2 separate regions of the Homo sapiens genome follow, and region 1 is linked to region 2. The links come from fine-mapping of genetic effects on gene expression. A gene starts in region 2. The other region holds a variant in brackets. All regions are shown on one strand. Distances are between the middles of the regions. Region 1 overlaps LINC01990 (long intergenic non-protein coding RNA 1990). Region 2 holds the start of LINC01990 (long intergenic non-protein coding RNA 1990).

Region 1 (11,659 bases), 32 kb before region 2:
GCAAACTGGAAGATAAATACCTGAGTGTCCTTGCCCCTCAGGCTAACGAAGGCATCTTCTGTTCTGTCCCCAGAGCTCCCCAGCAACATTGAGCCCCAGTTGCTCACAGCAGGAATCTGTTCCATAATATACCTTTTGCTATCGGCTAGTCTAACTTCCTGACTCCCCTTTTGGTGCTGTCTGTGATCACCTCCCAAATAAACAACTTGTGCATGCATTCTTGTCTCATGGTTGGCTTCTGGTGGAAGCTAATGTAATACACAGTCCCTGTGCTCTCATAGCAGGCTACTTAGACTTTCCCCTTCCTAACTTCATTTAGCGTGGGCAATACTCGTTTGAGAAAAGTCGTTGAGATCAGAAACAGCATCTTTCTCAGCATGTTCCTTTCAATACCTAGCACAATCTCTTACTCGAAGTAGGCGTTCAACAACTAAAGGTTAAGTGTAAGTGCTTCAATGAAGAGGAAAATCTGCATTATGGCACTTAAAATAAAAAGATAAAAAAAATTAAGTATTTACAATAATTCTCTATAGAGCAATGACCACATCATACTTTAGAAGCTCCGCTCTAATGAACAGAACAAATTATCTGTAGCCTTCATATTCCATACTTTTTGTTGTTGTTGTTGTTGTTGTTGAGATAAGATCTCACTCTGTTGTCCAGGCTGGAGTGCAGCAACGCAGTCATAGCTCTTGCAACCTTGATCTCCTGGGCTCAAGCGATCCTCCCTCCTCAGCCTCCTTAGTAGCTGGGACTACAGGTGTGCACCATCAGGCCTAGCTAATTTTTAAATTTTTAGTAGAGGCAAAGTCTCATTAGGTTGCCCAGGCTGGTCTCCAACTCCTGGCCTCAAGCAGTCCTCCTGCTTCAGCCTCCCAAAGTGTTGGGATTACAGGCATGAGCCACCACACCCAGCCTCATTCCATAGTTTTTGAGTTACCTGGTATTGAGAGTCACATTTCCATGTACCTGACCCGTTTCACCCACTGGCCTCTAAGCTCACTAAAGACAGACCTTTGATCTATGTTTTTTTATAATACTAGCCCCTCACCTGATGTGTTGCACCCAGTATATACTCAATTCCAAAAATATGTTTTATTAATTTTTTAAATTTTATTTTATTGAGACAGTGTCTTGCTCTGTTGCCCAGGCTGGCATGCAGTGGCATGATCTCAGCTCAGTGCAGCCTCAATCTTCCGGGTTCAAATGATCTTCCTACCTCAGCCTCCCAAGTAACTGGGACAACAGGCACACACCACCATGCCTGGCTATTTTTTTTTTTTTTTTTAAATAGAGACGAGTTCTCACTCTGTTGCCCTCACTGGTGTCAAACTCCTGAGCTCATCACGCAATCCTTCTGCCTTGGCTTCCCAGAGTGCTGTTGTTACAAGTGTGAGCCACTATGCCCAGCCCAAATTATTATTTAATGAAACCAAGAATTTTAAAGCACATGAGGGTGTTTTAAAATTGTTTCTTTTTAAAGAGGTGGTTTATTTTGTTGCCCGGGCTGGAGTGCAGTGGTGCGATTTTGGCTCACTGCAATCTCTACCTGCTGTTCAAGTGATTCTCCTGCCTCAGCCTCTTGAGTAGCTGGGATTACAGGCGTGCACCACCACGCTAGGCTAATTTTTCTATTTTTAGTAGAGACGAGGTTTCACCATACTGGCCAGGCTCATCTCAAACTCCTGACCTCAAGTGATCCGCCTGCCTCAGCCTCCCAAAGTGCTGGGATTACAGGCGTGAACCACGGCATCTGGCCTATACCTGTCATTTTTGTGCCCACTATAGAAAGATAAACCAGCGGAGTTCTATTATATTACTTATACAAATTTTAAGTTGAGAGCATCCAAATTAATGAGGTTTTACTGTACTTATGAAATTAATTTGACAATTATTGAAATCAAGATCTTGTAGAGAGAGTGTGTGATTCACATTAACAGTCTCTGAATATCCTAATTGTGTAGTCTTCATTCTTTTTGGCCATCATCTCTACTGCAGCATTTATTCACATTTAGCTCTGTGTTTTCACCCCAAAGAGGCCCAGATCTTGTAACTTTTCTGCAACCAGAAAATCTAATTCATTGTTAACAGACACAGTTGTGTGTCTGCTAGGCTGCTGTAGACATAACCCTTTAAAAGTTAGCTTAGTTAAAGGAAACAAAATAACACAAAACAATAGAGGTGTGTGTGTGGAAATCAGTGTTGTATGGCCTGGACCTATTCTTACCGCTCTTATAAAGCAACTCTTTCTGTGTGTGGTGTTTCAGCTTTACTTTAATAATTAGCAAGTCTTGGTAGATCAGAATTTCACTTGGGCCTTGTCCCTTAGAAAATAGTGTTAGAGGTTCCTCTGCCAGTGGCATTGGCAGCCAAGAAGGAACAAATTAAGGGATCAGTCTGTACTCACATGTAGAGACCTTTACTTCTTGGGATGATCCAAATATCTGCGTAATTTTACAATGGAGATAAAAGTTGATGAAATACTTTTGAATAGATTGTGCATATAGATATGGCCAGAGAGCTTGTGGATGTAGTTGTTCAGATGCAGTTACTCTGCTAAAAGGAATACAGATACAACTCAAAGGTACATAAAGAAAAAAATTCTGCAGGAAACTATACTTAGGATTACATCTCTGGCATTTATGTTTCTTTATAGTATTAGCACTTTACCTGATGTCTCACACACAATGTATGCTTGATTCCAAAAATATTTTTTATTTTTATTTTATTTTTTTGAGACAGTGTCTTGCTATCTTGCCCAGGCTGGCATGTAGTGGCATGATCTCGGCTTACTGCAGCTTCAATTTCCTGGGTTCAAGTGATCCTCCTACCTCAGCCTCCAAAGTAGCTGGGACAATAGGCACACACCACCATGCCTGGCTGATTTTTTTTTTTAATTTAATAGAGATGAGTTGTCACTCTGTTGCCCAGGCTGGTCTTGAACTTCTGAATTCACTCAATTCTCCTGCCTTGGACTCCCAAAGTGCTAGCGTTACAAGTGTGAGCCACTTTTAATGGCTCACCCTGCAAAATTTAAAAATTATTATTATAATTTTTTGAGAGAGAGTCTCACTCTGTCACCCAGGCTGGAGTGCAGTGGCATGATCTCAGCTCACTGCAGCCTCCACCTTCTGGGATTAAGCAATTCTCCTGCCTCAGCCTCCCAAATAGCTGGAATTACAGGCATGCACCACCATGCCTGACTAATTTTTGTATTTTTAGTAGAGATGGGGTTTCACTGTGTTAGCCGGGCTGGTCTGGAACTCCTGACCTCAAGTAATCCTCCCACCTCTGCCTCCCAAAGTGCTGGGATTACAGATGTGAGCCACCACACCGGCCCAAAATTATTATTAAAGAACAATAAAACACATGGTTAGGGAGTAGCAGTTTATTTTAATTATGTTCCCTTTTGAAAAACATCTGACAAATATTGCAACTAGTAATAAGGTGCCCAGACAGAAGGGATTTCCCAGAAAGGAGAGGTCTGTAATCCAGGTCTTACATTGTTAACCTCAGGACTGGCTACAAACTTATTGCCTGATACAAAATGAAAATGCAGAACTCCTTGTTCAAAATGTATTAAGAATTTTTTTAGCACAGTAGAGCATTAAACCAAGTAGGGATGTGGGGCAGGTCGGGGAGAGGTGCTTGGGGACTGTGTTACTGGTGTTACTGTATAAGTCCTACACTTGTGAAACCAGTCCTGGTTACCCACCAGTTACTGAGATCCTTCTCCGCAAGATTTTGTTCTTAGTGTTTCTTGATTAAATGATGTATCCCTGGACACACATGAGAAATCCAGATTATGACTGAGTCTATAGAGGTGCTATGTAAACATGATTCTGTGATTTTTTTTTCTTATTATTCTGTGATTTCTTAATATACTAGAACCCTTATCTATCCCCCAGTGGAAGACATCAAAGATTTTTTGGGTAGGGCTGGCTCTTAATAGAACTCAATAATAGGGCCAGGTGTGGTGGTTCATGCCTATAACCCCAGTACTCTGGGAGGCCAAGGTAGGCAAATCACTTGAACCCAGGAGTGCAAGACCAGCCTGGGCAACATGGGGAAACCCCGTCTCTACCAAAAATATAAAAAAATTAGTCGGGCTTTGTGGTTTGCATCTGTGGTCCCAGCTACTTGGGAGGCTGAGGTGGGAGGATCGCTTGAGCCCAGGAGGTTGAGGTTGCAATGAGCCGAGATTGTGCCATTGCACTCCAGCCTGGGTGACAGAGCAAGACCCTGACTCAAAAAAAGAAAAAAAAAAAGGAACTTCAATAATTCATCCTAGAAGTATATGCTTGCATTCCTTCCCACTTGATTGTCAGTTGTTAAAAGCCAAGACCCCAGTCTTGGGATTCTGAGATTTCATGCAGTCATCTACCCCCATATAGTTTGGAATGAGGGAGAAATGGCAAAGGCACTTACATGATTATTTCACTATGGCCTTTCTCACAAATTCCTCCCTGATCTCTGTCCCTTGCTGAAACTGAATCTGTGTACTCCTTTTCTTTCTGGGCCACCTTCCAGGCAGGTGGAAGCCATCTCCTCTAGGCCTTTTCTCCTCCTTCCCAAACCACCCCTCCAGGCAATAGAGGGATGAGGATCGATCTTCCTGAACCAGAGAACTTGGTCTTTACTCCTGTTTCCCCACACTCTACTCCTCCTTATCTTGGAGGCCCAGCTGTATCCTTTAGTTTATCTTTGACTTGTATGACTTTGTTCTCCCTAGGGATAGAGTCAGGGGATAGAAACACTTCAGTTCTGTCTTGAAATTAGAATAAAGATGCAGAGGGCATGAGACCCACCTCTGCCGTAGATTCAGTTTTGATTGCTTAATCAGGTGAGTTTTATGTGTCTACTAAATCACAAATAATTAGAGAACAGCATGTGTTAATAATCCTGAAAAATCCCAGGAACAGTTCTATAGCAGTGCCTCCAAATGTGATTAGAATTCTTTGCTCACAGACAGTATATTTCTTCCAAGTCTAAGAAAACACATGTGCTGTGTGAATTAATTTTATTGTACTTTTTCTAATTAGTCTTCAAAAGGCTTGGCTGTTTTGCTTATTGGTGAGCTCCTGTGACAAACCAGGGCATTCGATTGAATTGTAAACCAACTTATGACATTGAGCAAAGCAAACTTCCAAACAGATTGTGATTCTTCTTATCAAAGCAGTTATGAAAAAAAAGTTGTAGAAAAGGCATTTTTCGGGCAATTTAAAAATTAATGTCTGGTAAATGAGAATAATTCTATCTATCCTCTTATTTATTTCAGAAGAAAAATTTCAGAGTTTTTAAGGTATTTTTTAAAATGGGAAACTTAATAAGGAAATGGCATTACTTCTACTACTACTATTATTATTGTAAATATATTTAGGTATTATTTAATACTTAAGTAATTTTAAGTAATTTATTTAAGTATTATTAGTTTTTAGAATTCGTGACCTCTTATGGCCAAACTGGTTTTTAATAAGCTAGAATTTAGTAATAGGTTTTTTCCATTGAATTAGGTTTTAATAGAACCTAAGTTATTACTTAATGGATAATTTCTACTTGGAAATTGGTAAGACATATTGAGTATACATTAGATATGCTGAAGGGGCTATTTGTCAAAATTACCTGTTTTATAGGTATACTGAACACAATTTTCAATCTGTTATTAGTAGAACAATAATACTGGTCTACTTCATAGGATTTGTGGATTGTACTAAACATATTTAAATTCAAATATGTTTTTTGGCTTCATTGAACTATAATTAACATACGATAAACTGTGCATGTTTAAAGCATACGATGTGATGCATTTTGACACCCTTGCAAGCATCTCCATCAAGGTAGTGAATATATCCACCACCCTCAAAAGTTTCCTTCTGCCTGTTTATCATCCCTTCCTTCCTACCTCTTTTCAGGGTGCCCTTCCCTCCACTCCCTAGGCAATCACTGATCTGCTTGTTTTTCATCACTATTGGGTAGTTAACATTTTCTAGTCTTTTTTTTTTTTTTTTTTTGGTCTGGCCTCTTTCAC[T/C]CACCATAATTATTTTGAGATTTCTTCCTGTTGTTGGGTGTTGTTTTCCATAGTTTGGTTCATTTTTATTGCTGAGTCAAATTCTGTTGAATACACCATTTTCTGTTTATTCACCATCAAATGTTTTGTATGTATTTATTCTTTTCTTCTCTAAGCTAAACTTCATGTTCACTTCAATTCTGCCTCCCGAAGACTTCATGGTATCACAGGAGTTTTGTTGTCAGCCCATCACATCTGGATCCAAATCACAGCCATATCTCTTGTGAGTGTGTGAACACGGCCTTTGCAGGTTTCTTCTCTGGGCTGCAGTGTCCTTATCTGAAAAATGAGCATAGTAATATGTACCTCTTAGGACTGTTGTAAGGGTGAAATATGTAAAGCATATAGAACAAAACTTGGCACACAGTAAGTGCTATCTGGTTGGTAGTTATTATTATTACCGTCATTAATTGCATATGATATGTTTGGTAGAACTTCCAGCCCATAATAAACTCTCAACAAATGTTAGCTATTATTATTATTCATACTAATATCACTATAGCACATAACAACTCTTCATTTCTTTCCTTCCTTCCTTGTCCCTCTTATGTTTTCAGTCTCTTCACTATTTTTGTTACTAATAGTACCCGTGTTACCTGACCAGGCAAAATAAAGGAGGGCAGTGATTTCCAAAGTATGATCCCAGAACCAGCAACATTAGCACTGATTTGGGAACTCATTAGAAATGCAAATTCTCAGGCCCCACCCCAGACCTACTGAATCAGAAACTCTGGGGGATGGGGCCATGGTCTGTGTTTTAACAAGCCTGCCAGGTGATTCTGATATAGCTAAAGTTTGAAAACTAGTGCAGTCGGGTAATCGCCAGGCTGGTGCAGGAGTTAATGCAGGCTCAGTTCACGTCAACTTTCTTGTTAGGAAAAGCACACTGTTGACTAATTGAGCTTAATATCAACTAAAACCCCTAAGTCCTTTTCACACATGTTGCTGCTAATCCCCATATTCTCCATCTAGCACTTGTACAGGATTCTTTTTGGACTGAAGTATAAGTCTTTACATTTATCCCTATTAAACTTAATCTTGTTAGATTCGGCCCATCGCTTCAGTCATGTTTGGGGAAATTTTAGTTCAGCTGGAATGAACCATGACAAAAAAGCAGGGCCCAGAGACCAAGGAGGAATGTTACAAGGACAACATCCTTTTATATATTGGCCGAATACTGGCCAATGAGATACTGACTATGGTGGGCTTCTAATTAAACACTTGAGACCCTGGGGGGATGTGGTAATTTGATTTCAGTTTAATTCAACTAACATTTATTGGGCACCTACCAAGTTCCTGGCTGTGAACAAGGTACCAGAGGGGGTGCTAAATAGCTCACTCTTTAATGTCAGATATTAATGTCTACTATCTGACATTAGTAGTAGAGACAAGTAGAGATGAAGGGGTTTTTGGTTTTGGTTTTGTAGCAGGCACATTGTAGCCCAATATACCAATACTCACAAGTTCCTTAAGGAAGATAACTAATATTCTTTGAGCACCAGATCCTCCACCATATGCTTTGTTGACACTTCCATATTTAATTTTCAAAGCAATCATAGGAATGATTGCCCCATATAAATTTGAGGAAACATAGATACAGAGGTTAATGCATTTCTTCAAGGTCACACAGGTAGTTAGCAATAGAGCCAGAGGATGCTCCAAATCTGTATGGATTTAAAGAACATACTGCATATAAGCTTTCTCCTTGTGATCAAGAAAATTAAGCTCTTTAAATATCAAAACCCCTAGTAGCTTAAAGTCCAACCATAAACTATTGATTTATAATAGTTAGGTTTAAAATCCTAAAAACATTAAAATAGCGATACATTACCTAGTCCTATATACACAGAATAGTGCATTTAGCTGTGCTCACAGTCCTAATTTAAAACAACAACAACAACAACAACAACAAAACTTATGTTTGGGCCAGGCGCCGTGGCTCATGCCTGTAATCCTAGCACTCTGGGAGGCCGAGGCAGGTGGATCACTTGAGGTCAGGAGTTCGAGACCAGCCTTGCCAACATGGTGAAACCCTGTCTCTACTAAAAATACAAAAATTACCTGGTCGTGGTGATGCATGTCTGTTATCCCAGCTACTCAGGAGGCTGAGGCAGGAGAATCACTTGAACCAGGAAGGCGGAGGTTGCAGTGAGCCAAGATCGCGCCATTGCACTCCAGCCTAGGGGACAGAGCAAGACTCCATCTCAAAAAAAAACTTATGTTTGGTTTTGTTTTTATTTGCCTCTTTTAAAGTGTTAGCCACATATTTTAATCCATCTATATCACAATATTATTATATAAATATACAATATTAATACAATATTATTAATATTATAACTCCAAGTTGTTACCTGTAGCAACCAAATCTTTGGAAAATATATAATTTTATCCTCTAGGGGGCAAAACTAATCAATTCTATTCTAGCAGGTAATAGCTGTTATATTTTACTGATACATAATGTGCATTTTAGTAAAGTATCTTGTAGTGTAATGGAAAGACACTGGACTTGGAGTCTAAAGATAAAAATTTGCTTCCACTTACTAGCTATCTCACCCTGGGCAAAAAAATTTAACTTATATAAACCTCAGTTTTTAGATCTCTAAAATGGGATGATAATGTTCATGGGGTTGTGAAAATTAACTGAAATAGTATTTATGAAGTTTCTCTGTGGTCTGGTAATGTTTTACAAATATAAGGTTTTTTTAAACTTATCTATTTTACAAGCTACCAAAATGTGAAATATTTTGGACACTTCTGCCACCTACACATCTACCTAATTCATAGAGTAGAATTTGAAATTTTTGAACTTCTCTGAAAATGCATCCATTCTTTCATAGTTTCTTTTTAGCAGTAGAGTTTCCTGTAGAATTACATACAAGCAGTGGAATAGAACTGATATTGAAATTCTAGATTCTGTTTGTTAACTTGCATTTCAAAGATAAATTCTGTTTAACCAGCATTAATATTGTCAACACTACTGGCATCATCATTATAAAAAGATTCCCACTAGGTGCCAGCATGCCTGAAGCCATGTGCTATGGTTGTATAAAGTGAGTTAAGCTGGTAAGAAGCCTAGTTCTTTAGGACTTTATAATATGGGCAGACTTTACATGAATAGGGGAAAAAATAAAGATATGCATTTGAATCCCTGGATTTAAACCCCTGCTGTATCCCTTATTAGGTGTATGACCCTAGGCAAATGACAGTCTTTTAAACTTCAATTTATTCATCTTTATAATTGGGATAACAGTACCTACCTGATAGAGATGTTGTGAGAATTAAATGCTATGTTATGGATAGAGTGCTTAGTACAATAGCAGTATTTAATGCCCAGTTAATATCAGATATTATCTGAGCTAAGAACTCTATACTGCAATATCAAACTCCTAAACTTTTCATCTTTCTTTTCTGGTCCTCATACCATGCAAAAATGGGGTTACTCTGATAATAATGAATAAATGTGAAGCCTGGAAATTACTGTCAATCACCTGCACTGCTACATTAACCCCCTGGAATCACAGAGTCTTAGAGTAGGAACCCCAGACTTCGAAAGTCATTTAGACCAATGACCTTGTTTTGCAAATGGGGAAACTGAGATCCACTCAGGTTAAGTGTCCTATCCAAGGCTATAGAGCTAGTTTGTGATGAAGCTGGACTAAAATCTGGGCTCTACACTCAAAGTATGTCACTCTCCCTCCTCCATACTGTCTCCCTAGACAGCTTGGTCATTTTAATCCCTTCTTATATTTGCCTTGCCAATAGGACCATGCTGTTCTGGCCTGCTGCCAATTTAGGCTGTCCAGTTCCAGCCAAGTCTTCATGGTTAATCTTGTTATTCATCTCCTCTTTTTTTCCTAGCATGTAAGTTTCACAATGTATTTAGCAGGGGGAAAAACCCAAAACCTGCCTTTGTTTTCCAAATAAAACCTTATTTGTGTCAAAAAAAAAAAAGTGAAATCAATAAAAGCTTCCTTGTTTGGATAGGGATGGGTTGTGAGTCCACAGGCCCATAGGCTCAGCTCAGACCCTTCATTCCCATTCCCTCTAAAGTGGTCCCTGAGGGAGTTCTACTGAACTCTCAGGTTTCTCTTAGCAACACAGTTTAAAAGTTACTATCTCACATGTACACTTAACAATGGTTATTCCTGGGGACTCTCAACTTGTCAGGAGCATCTCAGGCCACTTCCATATGTGTAATCCTGTTTAGCATTTCTGTATTTTTTAATACGCTAAACAGGATTACACAAATTATGACATATTTTAAATGTTCCCACTCAATAGATTAACATTTTAAATTCAGATAAAAAATTGATGACAGCAGGTGTGGCCTCCTTTTGATATAACACCAGAAGTTGAAAATTGAGATACTTCCACTTCCATCCCCAACTTGGCATTGGCCCTTACTTTTCTTAACTTGGCCTGTTCCTCAATTCTCAAGATCCAACTCAACCATCATTTAATGGGTGTCCACTATGTGTTAAGTTCCCCAGTAGGTACTTGGGCCACAAAGATGAAAAAGATATAATCTTTGCTCTTCAAGCAAGTAGCAGATTAATAAGGGTGACAGCTCCAAAGTGGTCCCTATGGAACTGTGTCCTTTCATGCCTTTGAGCAGTTCCTGGCCCCGACTTGTGTTAATAGCAGTGGAGGTGACACAGTGCCAGTTCAGGGCCCCCTTTAAGAGGACTGACAGCTTCTGATTCCTTCCTTTTGGAACGCTCTTACACCCTGAGCAGCTGTATAAGAAGTTGGGCTGCTTTGGTGGAGGGACCACATGAAAAAACATGTGGAGAGACCTCATGAAGAGAAAGAAGCCCAGCTTTCCCAACACCAACATCCCAGCTTGAGCCCAATCCTCCAACTATCTCAGCCAAGGTCCTAGACGTATGAGTGAACTGTCTTACATGCTCCATCTTTATGGAGCCCTAAAGTTGACTGTAGCTCCAGCTGATGTCACGTGGAGCAGAACAACCACATAGCAGATCCCAGTCAACCCATGGAATGTTGAGACAATAATAACTTAGTTATTACTTAAGTCATTATGTTTTGGAATGATTTGTTACATAGCAATAGATAACTGAAACAGATGGGTAAAAAAATGATGATGCCATGTGGTAAGTTCTACCGTTAAGGTATGTACAAACTGAAGTGTTAGCATTGACAAAGCACTGACTAGACATTATTGAAATTGGGACTAGGAGTATACCAGGATTCATGGAGGAACTGGCATAATGAGCTGAATCCTGAGGAATGAGTAAAATGTCATCAAGTAAAGAAAGTAGCATGTATAAAAAAGCTTAGGAGAACATAGTAGCAATACATATTTAGTATGTAGTTCAGTGTCAGTTGGGAGATAAAGCATCACAAAGGTATACTAGAGCCAACTATAAAGGCCTTTTCTTGTCAGGCTAATATTAACCTGCAGGCAGTGGAAAGCCAATGATAGCTCTTAGGCACTGCTATGAAATGAGCAGTTATCATATCTGTTATCTTAGGCTTCCTTCTCCTTAGCCATTTCACACTATGGATCACTTCCTCTTTCCCCTTTCTCTTCTTCTGTGACTTTATCCAGGTTTTCCTCCTGCTGATCTA
Region 2 (11,659 bases):
TAGAATTAATAATTTTTAAATTGTGTATATATAAGTGTACATCATATTTTTATATGCATACTACTTTACTGTAGTCAAAGACATTAACATATGCATTATTTCGCATAGTTACTTTTTTAAGAATACCTAAAAATCTTGTTAGCAAAGTTCTGTATACAATACATTGTCATTAACTATAGTCCTCATGCTGAACATCAGATCTCTAGACTTATTGAACCAACATAATTGCAACTTTGTAGCCTTCGATTACCATCTTCCCATTTCCCCCTTATAAATATTTTATTAGCTATCATTATAGATACTAATAATGAATCCTATAAAATAAATTAGTAAAAATAATACAAACTCATAGTAAAATAAATTCTGTAAAAGGACAGGAGAAGTCAATGATACTTTTTGTCATTGCATTGGTGCTTTCCTCACCAGTTTAGGAATCAGAGTAGAAATTGTTTGGCAGCTCTAGCAGTATCAGAACTCATTTTCCTGATCAAATACAAAGCAAAACAAAATGGACTAATATTTGAGAAAGTGGTTTCTTGTTATCTAATTCAGAGAATTCTATTCTGTGAGTGATTCCAAGAATCAATTTGGATATTCCTTTTATTAAATTTCAAGGAATATTTCTCTTAATTGAAAATTGTGTGACCTACATCAGAAACACATTTGCACTGCTGTGCATTTCACAGTGCAGTTTCTCATCCATTACCTCATTTGATTCTCACAGTATCCCCCTGTTGGTAGACAGGGCAGTAGAGATATACCTGTTTCACAAAGGATTTAGCCACAAAAGGACAGAAGTGATGCAAGGTCATAGAGCTGGCAAACTGAAGAGTCAGGATTTGAATCCAAATCATCTGGCTCCAAATATTTCCAATATATTGTGTTACCTCTCCTCATTTAAGTTAATACAATTATAATGGTGATAACTACTGAGGTAATTCAAGCAATTTATCTAGGGGTCTAAATTACTCAAATAATCGACTGGATATTTTTGGTTGCTTTGCAAATTGAGACACAACCCGAGTGTCAATGAGGATTAAAAGAAAAATAAATAAATAAAACTGCGTTTCCAAAAAATGATATGTTTATATCCCTTATTTCTCAAATCTGTACTCTAAGAAATGCTTTTTGAGCCAAAAGTTCCGAAAGTGTTTTTGTTGGAGAATATAATCTCTTCTCTGAACTACAGACTTCATTAATTCTCCATAGCTTGCTATATTTCCCATTGCTTTCCTTAGAATGAAAGAATCTAGAGTTCTAGATTCTCCTCCCTGGTGATATACAAAGTCTACTTTAATGATATTAAAAAGTATATTAAACTATACCTATTATCTCACAAGCATTCTTTCTAATTACCTTGTGGTGAGCATATAAACATTACTAATATATCTAAATAAACAGACATATAAGATAGTCATGGTATTATTATATTAAATGCGAAATAAACCCTTCTAGAGATGCAGATTCCTTATCATATGAGATCAGTTTGTTAATTTGAGACCATTTGTCAAGGAAGTGGTCCATGGGTATACCTATTTGTGCTCCAGAGGTTCTGTAAATATTTATCAATTACCTTTTGAATTTTGCATAAATATACACAATGTGCTTTATTCACTAAAGAGTTGACCTGACATGGAAAATTTATTCAAGCAAAATCTTTAAGTGGCTAGTCTTGGGACACCCTCATGGTCCCGGATGGTACAGAAAACATTTGCCCACTCATAAGCTTCTAGCAGTATGAAATTGTGCAATAAGTACAAGTGGGGAGGTTGGATAAAACAGGACTCCTCTACATGTCTGGGAGGCCATTCCTTGGCTCAGAGTCTGACACATAATGGATGCTGAAAAAATATTTGTTGAATAAATGAATGAATGATCCAGTAGCTGTTTTGAAGGCCTTATCTACTCTATTGCTCCATTAATTGTCTCTAACCCTCAACAACTTGTACTGTCACCAATGGGGAAGAATGTAGGGACCTCCTTCCCTAATAAATGTAAACAGCATACATACAATTATAATTTAGCTAAAAGCATTAATACAAATGGAAAGAGCAAATACAGGGGTTGATTGACAAAGTGACTAAAGCTGATACGAGCTCACCAAAAGGAGAGACAGAAGGTTGAACTGTGATAAGCTAGAACTGGAAGGTCCTGGATCCATGGATATTTAAACTATTTGCTCAGTTCAGTTTAGAACAATTCAACAGATTCTATGTGTTGGGAACTGGGACATAGTGTTAGGTCCCCGGATTACAAGGTGTCTGAAAGTCAGGAAACAGTGTGTACTTATATTTAAACATTATTTTAGTTACATTTTCAAATCTGCTTAGTATGTTTTTCCTCATTCTCCAGAAAAGTTTCCAGAAGTTTAAATACCTCTAAATTTAAAGTAATGGGGTAATGTGAAAAAGTATAATAAATACACTATGTTTTCCTCTGTTTTCAGATTTTTTTGACATTCCGTAGTATATGACAAATGGACATATTGCTTTAAACATACTGAAGGTATTATTTGAAAATGTAACATTCTATTTAAAGTAAGTTTAGCCTCTTTCCTAAGTTTTCAGATACACTAAACAAAGTTTACATAGACAGATTCCTCAGGAGCTCTAGTGAGAAGAGAAGGATATGGAAAAACTCCTTATACAGATTAAGGATATGGAAACAACTCATTATACAGATTAAGAGCCATAAAAGAGACTATGTAAGGAACAGAAGAGGTCTGCTGCACAAGCACGAGGTTATTGCTCTGTGGGAGGTAGCAGAGGGTCAGGAAAATTCACATGTGTGGTGCTGTCTGAGCAGAGTTTTGGGAAATGAATGGCATTTTCCAAGAGACAGGTGTGGAAGGAAGGCCAGGCAGAGGATGGGAATAATGCAAGAACACAAAGCAGGGGACAGCACTATATGTGCAGAGGACTACAGCGTGTTTAGTATTGCTTAAAGTTTGATGAGAGGCAGAATTGTGGGTGATGAAAAGTAGTAATATCATGTAATATTTTATCTGCCTTCTTCATAAGTCTAATTTTAATTTTATCCTGTAGAATGGATGGGAGATCAGCAAATGATTTTAGGTAAAGGAAATAATTTGCTCAGAGTTGTTGAGAAAAGGCAGTAGTCTGCATGGTTCTCTCTTTCTTTCTTTCTTTTGAGAGAGGGTCTCTCTGTTGCCCAGGCTGGTACACAGTGGTGCACTATGGCTCACTGCAGCCTTGACCTCCTGGGCTCAAGCAACACTCCCATCTCAGCCTCCTGAATAGCTGCACTACAGGTGCACACCACCACACCTAGGCCGGAGTGCAGTGGCATGACCATGGCTCACTGCAGCCATGAATTTATGGGTTCAAATGATCCTCCCACCTCAGCCTCCTGAGTAGCTAGGACTACAGGATGCACCACCATGCCCATTTTTTTTTCTTTTTGCAGAGATAGGGTGGGGGTGGGGCTGGGGGTTGCGGGGGGGGGAGTGATGGATTGTCTGTGTTGCTCAGGCTGGTCTTGAACTTCTACTATCCTCCTGCCTTGGCCTCCCAAAGTGCTGGGATTACAAGCATGAGCCACCATGCCTGGCCCCCATTTTCCTTTATAATATTAGCGTTCTTACCAGGTAACATGAGCAGAAATGAAATAATCGAGTTTCACACGGTTTCTCTCTCCCTCTGGGAGAGAAACTAGATTAACAGTCAAAAATCCAGAAGGCAAGCAATTTGAAGGGGAAACTAAGGATAATCAAGATTTGACTGTACACTTTTTGTAACTGTTGAATTATTTACCTTCTTTGACTCCTCCTGGACTGAGCCAATGTAGTCTGGATAGTAGAAAGGACCTTAGCCAAGAAACCAGGAACAGCCTCTCTGAATCTCTTTCTGCAATTGTGTGTTTCCAGAAAAATTGCTTCTTTGAGTTTGTTTTCTGATCAGGAAAATGAGGAAGTTTGATTACATCAAGGCTTCTCAAGTTCTAATTCTATCACATTCACCTAAGGTGGTTCCAAAATATACAGATTCCCAGATCTGACTGAAGGACACATTGTAGAGGTTGGGCTGAGGTCTCTGTATCAGACTGGGCGTAAAGTGTAATGTCCTGTCCTGCCACTTATTAACTGGGTGACCTAGAGTAAGTTACTTCATGACTCGTATATTTCTCATAGGTAAAGCAGGGATGATAATATCTCTACTTCATATGTCCCCGGGAGGGTAAAATGATAGAATCCTTTTTAAGTAGCAAGTATATTGCCTGTCACATATTAATCATTCAACAGATGTTATATATTATTTGTATAGCCCACAGTATTCACTGTGTGTGTGTGTGTGTGTGTGCGCGCGCGCGTTTGGTGCAAGGTAGACGATCCATAAGTATCTGCTGCGTAAATAAAAGTTGTTTTTTTTTTTTTAGCAACTTCTTTTGTTCTCAGATCTGAAATGATTAGCCCAGGAATTACTTCCCTAAAAAGGTAAAGCTAGTTTGAGAGAACTGCTTAAATGTGGCGCTCAATCTTTGCTATCTTAGACTGAGAGCCTCATGATAATTAAAAAATAATTTAAAGATGAAAGTCCTACTAGAGTGGGCGAGCTGATTACGAAAAGGAATGAGCCTCAGAGACTGTTAGCCGGATCCAGCCGGCCACTGCGTAATCCACTCCAGTGACTCTCACCTAGGTGCGCATCTCCATTTTATCTCACAAGATGCCGTGAAATTCTCAAAGTCATTGTAACTACAATTGATTTTGAATCACAAAAAAAGCAATATTCCATTTTCCGTGTTGTTGACCAAGCAGAAAACAGAACGTAACTTTTAAAACGCTTGAAAATCAGGGCTATCAAAAATAGAGAACTTCTATTCGCCATGAACTCGCTGATGCAAACAATCAACGCACACTGAACCGTGTGTTTTTCTGGGTGGTGGTGGTCCCTCGCCAAATAGTCAGCGTTTGGTTCTCCGCGTCTGTAGCGAGAGGAGTTACAGTTTGGTACCGGCAGGGAGGAAATCGCCTCGCAATCTCTGGAGGTGGCCTCCTAGAAAGATCGCCGGGAGGGGAGGAGCCCCGATTGTCCTGGAAGAAAAGCATGGCCCCATCCGGGAAGTCACAGCTTGCCGGGAGCCCAGGGCTGGCGGCTCTGGGTCCTGGAGGTGGCAGACGGCGGAGCAGCCGGCCTCGTAGCCCGGGCCTGCGCGCCTGGCAAGGGGCTCAGTGTGTGCGAGTGAAAGACGCACACCGGGCGGACCTGCGTGGGCTTCGGCCTCGCCCCGCCGCGCGCGGGGTTGCGGCTGAACCTGACCAGGGCTCATCCCTGCCCGGCGAGGGTAAGGGCGGCCCGGGATCCGCTGCTGCTCGGATGGGAGCCGCTCGGGGCCGGGATCCCTGGGCCTTGCGGGGGCGCGGCAGCCCCTCCCCCCGGAGCCCGCGCTTCCGCCCGAGCCCCGGCGGCGGCGGCGGTGACCGTGGCCCCGCCGCGCCTTCCGCCTGGGAGCTGCCGCCGCCCGCCCGCGCCCTTGTGCACCGCGCCCACAGGCCGCGGGAACCCAGAGCGCCCGGGCCCAGGGGCCTCTGCCGCGCGACTGAGACGCACTCCGAGCTGGACGTGTGGAAGGTTCGGCCAGCTCGGCGTTTCGCCCCCGCTGGGGATGGGCCACTGGGCACCTGCAGCCACCCAAGAGCGGGGAGTTGGCCGGGCCCTGGCCAGGGGCCGCCGCCACAGCGTACTGGCAGGGAGAACAGAGCTAGCTAAGCCTCCTTCCTCTCCCAGATTCCCAGGGAAACTGGACAGCCCGACGCCCAGAGCGGACGGGCGAGAGCCCCTGAGGTGCCAAGTGGACCCCGGTTCTGCTGCTGCCACTGGCCGATTGGGGACGCCGGCACTTGCGCTGTGGGCGTGTGGTGGGGCATTTCCGTTATCCTCTCGAAGACACCCCGCCACTATTCCTGCTCAAACAAGCACAGTCTGGTGTGCAAGCCGACCGTACCTCCTCCCCTCCCTCCTTTCTTGCACGCACCTTCGTTCGTCTATCTATTCTTACCTTCTTCCCCAGAGCGCCAAGACAAATGTGGACAAGAGTGAAGAAGTTAGGATACTGCCAAGTGTGTGTGTATTGGGGTGGGGGGGTAGTAATAAGCGGGGAGAAAGTGATGAAAATAAAATTAGAAATCCCAGAGTATGTAGCAACACACACACACACACACACACGCACACACACACGTTCCCAGCCTGTTAGCAATCTTGGCTATGTCCAAGTGGAAGCAAATTTTAATGCTCGGTCTCAGAAGAAAATTTCACATATACAGGCTTCAGAGGTAACGGGGTAACCGATAGCTTCCTTTTACTTCTCGGCATTTATTTTTGCTTTTCTGAAGCATAGTCCTATGTTTATTAAAGGGACCACAGGAGTACACGCTGTTTGAAAGCCATTCCTGGACACCACTGAGGCCGGCTTCCCAGGGAGCCTTTGTCGCCTCTGCAGCAGAGGTCACTGGACTCTCCTCAAGGTGTAATGTGAGGGAACAGGTGCCTCGGGGGCTTGGGAAAACACCACGCTGTGCTCTGATGTGTGTCCCCATCCCGGGAGAAGGCAAGTGCTTTGCATAAGGACCAGATGGGTTGCTGAATAGGGAGGTGGAAAACAAATAGACCCTTGGGTGTATCTTGAACCCCTTCAACACCCCCCCTTCCCCACTCCCCGCCTTCACCGAAGCAGTGTCAGAGTCCTCTTCGATCCAGCATGCTCTCCTACAATGGCGAAAAACTGCATTAAAACGAGGCAGTCGGAGCTGACTGCGGAAACCCATGTTCTTAGAGAGTCGTCTGGCTACTGCGTAGTCCTGGAATATTCTTTTTTTCAAAAGGCCTCTTCCAGTTGATTCCAACCGGGTTCGGGTTATTGTTCTCACCACCGATAGGGGGCAGCAGGTGTCCTGCGATGCCCCGGGGATGTGCGCGCAGACTGCCCTGCTGTCCCCGGGAATCCGACTACACTGAACGTTTGGGGCAGAAGCAGGAGCTGCTGCCTCTAAGTCCACCGCAGCAGCTGCCGGGACTTGGGCCTCCCAGCCTGGGCGCCTGGGGGGGGCTTGCCCTGTGCAAAGGGTGGGCGAAACCATCTGTGCACCAAGCCTGCCCCTAAACTTAGCGTACAGCATAGATAAATAAACTCAGTTGTATGCAAATGCTATAATTAAAATATACAGTCATTTGAAAGTACTGTAGGCTCTATTGGAGTTTTTAATTGTTTTTGAGTTTTCTCAATCAGTAGAGAATTTAAAAATACGGCTATCACAGTCTGTTTGGAGGGTGGTGGTCTGTTACGTTGAATTTTAAAAGGGCGTCTGTCCCTAGAAGTTGGGAACTACTGATCCACAGAATCGTTTGATAACCGTGGTAAAGATTCCGAGGCATCTCGGAAGGGAAACTGGGAGGACTGAGCTAGTCCTAGCAGGGTGTGTGTCCGCCCGCGCCGCGAGGCGTGGGCAACACAGCCCCATCCCGGGAGCGCGGAGCTATGGCAGCTGGGATTGGTTCAGATCGAGAGTCCTGAGGGGCTGGGATTTCCTGAAAACCTACTTCACTTGGTAAGCCAGAGCGCTTGAGTTTTCGGAATTCCCGAGGAAAGGTTCTATATATTCTCCAAATCCACATTTTCTCAGATATAAGCACTTTTTCCCTAAATTAAAAATATATTTGGGGTTTGTGGAGCAGTAATTTTTTTGGAAGAAAGAAAAATCCAATGTAAAAATGTAGAGACTAGCTATTATAGTCATCTCTAAATAGATTTTTGAAGTGATAACGGCTAAATTATCCAAATGAAAAAAAATGTGTAATAGTAGTAACAAGGCTGTGCCCCTACTTTATGAATCTCACGCACAATTAAAAACTCTAATCCCTGAAATACCTTTGGAAGGGAGGGAAGGATTACAGACTAATTATAGGATTTATAACACAACACTAAGATGTTTTCATTTTATTACAATAATGAACAAAACATTGATGATATCTACTTTTAATGTAATTCTTCCAACATCATAACAGATTTTAGAAATGCAACCATAACCACTAGAGAAGGGAAGAATTTCAATAGCACACTAAATTGTCAGAAATTTCATTAACATGGAAAGTTCATATCATGATGTCAGAATATAGACTCTCTTCAAATTAATGATGAATACTAATTAAAGTCAGAACATTTGTAGGAAAGTATAAAATCTGTATCTGAGAGGGGAGAGGAGGAATTAGAGGAAGGAAAGGTCAGGGAAGTAATGTGAGTAAATCTGAGGGGGAGGATTTCCATATTGGGTTCATGATACTAAGAGAAACCAGAGGCCCAGCTGCTTCTATGGATAGCCCTACAGCTGTTGAACCGTGGGACAGAGGTCACTATGGCATTTGAGAACACAGATTATTCTTTGTGCCTAAAGATAAACCTGAACAATTTTTAAGTTTGTCAGGGACCAGCACTGTTCACCTTCAAATGTGTTGAAGGACCTGCACACTGAGCATGGGCAAGTTTTAGTCCATGTTTAAAGGAGCAAAACTATACCAAGGACCAATCACAAAAGTGTCTTTTACATTTTTTTGCCACAAATTGGCAAAAATATGAAATAATTTCAATATTGAAAGCAGTCTATGGATTTATAGCACAACTTGGTTTATTTGCTGAATAATAATGTCTATCATTTCCTGTGCCACATACCAGCTAAGCAAGGTAGATATGATTAGCTCTATTTTACATATAAGGAAACTAAGGTTCAGTGAACTTGATCGACGTGCCTACATTTACACAGCTATTAACTGGAAGGCCATTTTCTGATTTTAGAGCCCAGGCTTTTTCATTGTCTCACTGCAAACCCTAAAACTGCATGTATCCGTATAAGGGATTCAAACCTTGGATTCTCAGATATCTGATCACTGAGCAAAAATGGGAAAACTTATTTCTGTCATGATTTGAGTGACCAAAAACCAAAAGCTAAATTCAAACAAAACCAAAACCTACAGGCCACAGAGGATCTCAACCTCGAGTTTCTATATCCCAAGTGCTTTTTGGAAGTAATGATGGGGTGGGGAGGAATCTACAACCTAGTTTAAATTTTCAAAAATCTAAACAGATATTGCGTGATTACTGCAGAAAATTCTATTGTTTTTGCTTTGCCTGGCATTGCATAAAGTCAATCCAAAGTAGGAAAATAAATTTACTGTTAATAAATGTAGTTTGTTTGCTAGACAATATCTTTAATTATATTAGGTCCATGGAAGGGTTGGAAAATGATAATAATAAATGTTAAAAGGGAGGCTTTGGACATGGAAAAGAACCACTGATACTTGGCAAAATCTCGTATATTTATTCTATGTGTTATTAGTTCTGCCACTTAATAGTAGGTCTGTGATTATGAAGGAGTTGTGCTGCATTTAAGGATTTTATATTGCATTTCCACAAATATAAATGTTACCTGAAGAACACTAGTGTAAATTGGCCAACTCTAAATAATCAACACCATTCAGTCTGGGTCATAAAGCGCTGGAGGAGGAAGGGTGTGTTTGGAGATTATGAAATAGCAGGTCCCAGAGAACAGTTTCTCTAACTTCTCCTGATGGCTGCTCTTTCTCTAGTCCAGTGATTCTCAAATATTTTCGTCTTAAAGCCCCACAAAGCTTTTGTTTATGTAAGTTTATGAGGATTGCATCTATTGATACTACTGTATTAGAAATTAAAATTGGAGAAATGTTTAAAATATGTTACTTGAGTTACTTAATTTATAATAATGACAAGGCCATTACGTATTAACGTAAGTAACACATTTTAATAAAATAATAAGTGTTTTCCCAAACAAAAATTTGAGAAAAATGTTATTTTATATTTTGGAAGTCTCTTTAATATCTGGCAGCTGGATTCTCATATTAGCTTCTGCATTTTCATCTACTGTGACATGTTGTGTAGGTTAAGTACATAAGAAAATCTGTCCCCAAAGAGAAGCATCATTGAAGAAAGGAGTGTTTTCAGATAATTGTGGATAGTCTTTAATACTACTACAAAATCCTTCAAATGATAATTTCAAAAAAGTTAATTGCAATGGGGAATTTAAGTGCATATCAATAAACTTTTCATATTCTGTTACATTAAAACCCACTGGTCTATTGCTTGGATGTTTTACGCAAATCATAATACAGTGAGTGATTTGTAACAGCATGTAATGGTCACTGGGAAATTATTCCTTCACTGAATTATGCAGCTCTTCCAAATGTCTATTTCATTGTACAATATCAAAAATATCATATTCATTAGTTGTATTTCATCAGGAAATATTTTACATATTAGGATATGAATTTTCCAATATTTTAATTTTTACTTGTAAGTTCAAATAATTTTATCATTGGTTAAAAAAAATCTTGTCAATTGTTTTCCTAGAAGTGACAGGCTCACTTTGTTTATTTCTGAGAAAAAAAATCTGCCAAATATTCGAGTCTGAATAACCACAATTTGTCTTGTCAGTCAGTTGTTCTTTCAAATAAAAATGCTATTCTATAAAAAAAGTGACTAGTTCAACTTGAAACTCAATTGCACTAGTGCTTCTCCTAGACAGCCCTCGTACATCTGTGTGTAATAGAAGCACTTTACGTATCATTTCTATTTTGTCCCACAAAATATTAAAAAGACATACCCTAGAGGGTCAGGATTTAATAAATTTAGTCAAATACCTTTTTTTTTTACTGCTTTATCCAGTACATTCTTGAGTGAAACTGACTTTTTTTTTTTTTTTGCTACAATTTGATTCCACTTCCTTGCTTTGTGCCAAGACCACCACAGTTTCACCCAGCATCAGTGAAAACACTGGCAAAGTGAAAAAGGCAAATATCACCTTAGTACTTTAAAATAGTTCTAGCCTCACAGAACCCCTGAGTCTCGAGGACCTCCACAGACGCTTTGAGAACCAGTGCTCTAGTCCTACAACAGTTGTTATCTGGGTCACTCACTTGCTACTTGACTACATGCTACCTTATGTTGTTACTTGTCTTCTGCTGCCCACAAATCTAACCTCCCTAATTAGGAACCGTATTATTTATGTATGTATCCTGAGGATGGTTGAAGTGCATGGCAGGCAGTACAACTACAGTTTTTTGATGACTGATTGACTGACACATTGGAATTAGTGGTTCATGTGCACTCTTAGTTTATCGCAGATCACATCCTAGCTGGTTTTGCTTTTTTACTTATGTTACCAAGTGAAGAAATACATTTGGGGGAATATATTTATTCTGAGGAAGGAAAGGGACATTCGTCATGATACGTTATTATTTTTCCAAACAGATATCATCATTGGAAGCCATGTTTGTTTGTGTTCTATTTTAGCTATTCCATTGCTAGTACAGGAAACAACTTTCCATACCAGTGGATGAGAATTTGAGTCCAGTTTGTGATGAATTTAAAATATGACAGTCATGAATGCCACCAGAGGAATGGCTTCTAATAGTAAAGGGCTTGTCCAATTTGTACGGCAAGCTGCAAAACACAGCTGAAATTTGGACAGTTCATTAGTTTCACTCCTTGGGGTCATGCAAGACTTCTTAAATGTGTGAGGAAGTTCTGTTGCCTGTGAGGTCACAAATCAATCTACTATAAATAGCAATATGCCTGTATTTTTTTCACTTTTCACACTCTTAGTCTTTACTATTAG

Evidence for each region. PIP is the estimated chance that this variant, and not a neighbour inherited with it, causes the effect.
Region 1: its variant is fine-mapped to the expression of LINC01990 in nucleus accumbens (GTEx, PIP 0.97).

The regions. Positions count from the first base shown.
Region 1 is chr3:107,457,260-107,468,918 of GRCh38, reverse strand. It overlaps LINC01990 (long intergenic non-protein coding RNA 1990), which reads right to left. Exons shown (of 3, transcript NR_110039.1): 2 at 8,129-8,246; 3 at 5,007-6,346. Among named protein-coding and RNA genes, the nearest start is that of LINC01990, 32 kb to the right of the region's middle. The variant T/C (reference allele first, on the strand shown) is at 6,029.
Region 2 is chr3:107,425,318-107,436,976 of GRCh38, reverse strand. It overlaps LINC01990 (long intergenic non-protein coding RNA 1990), which reads right to left and starts at 6,047. Exons shown (of 3, transcript NR_110039.1): 1 at 6,019-6,047. RefSeq lists an enhancer at 4,852-5,041 and a silencer at 5,252-5,501.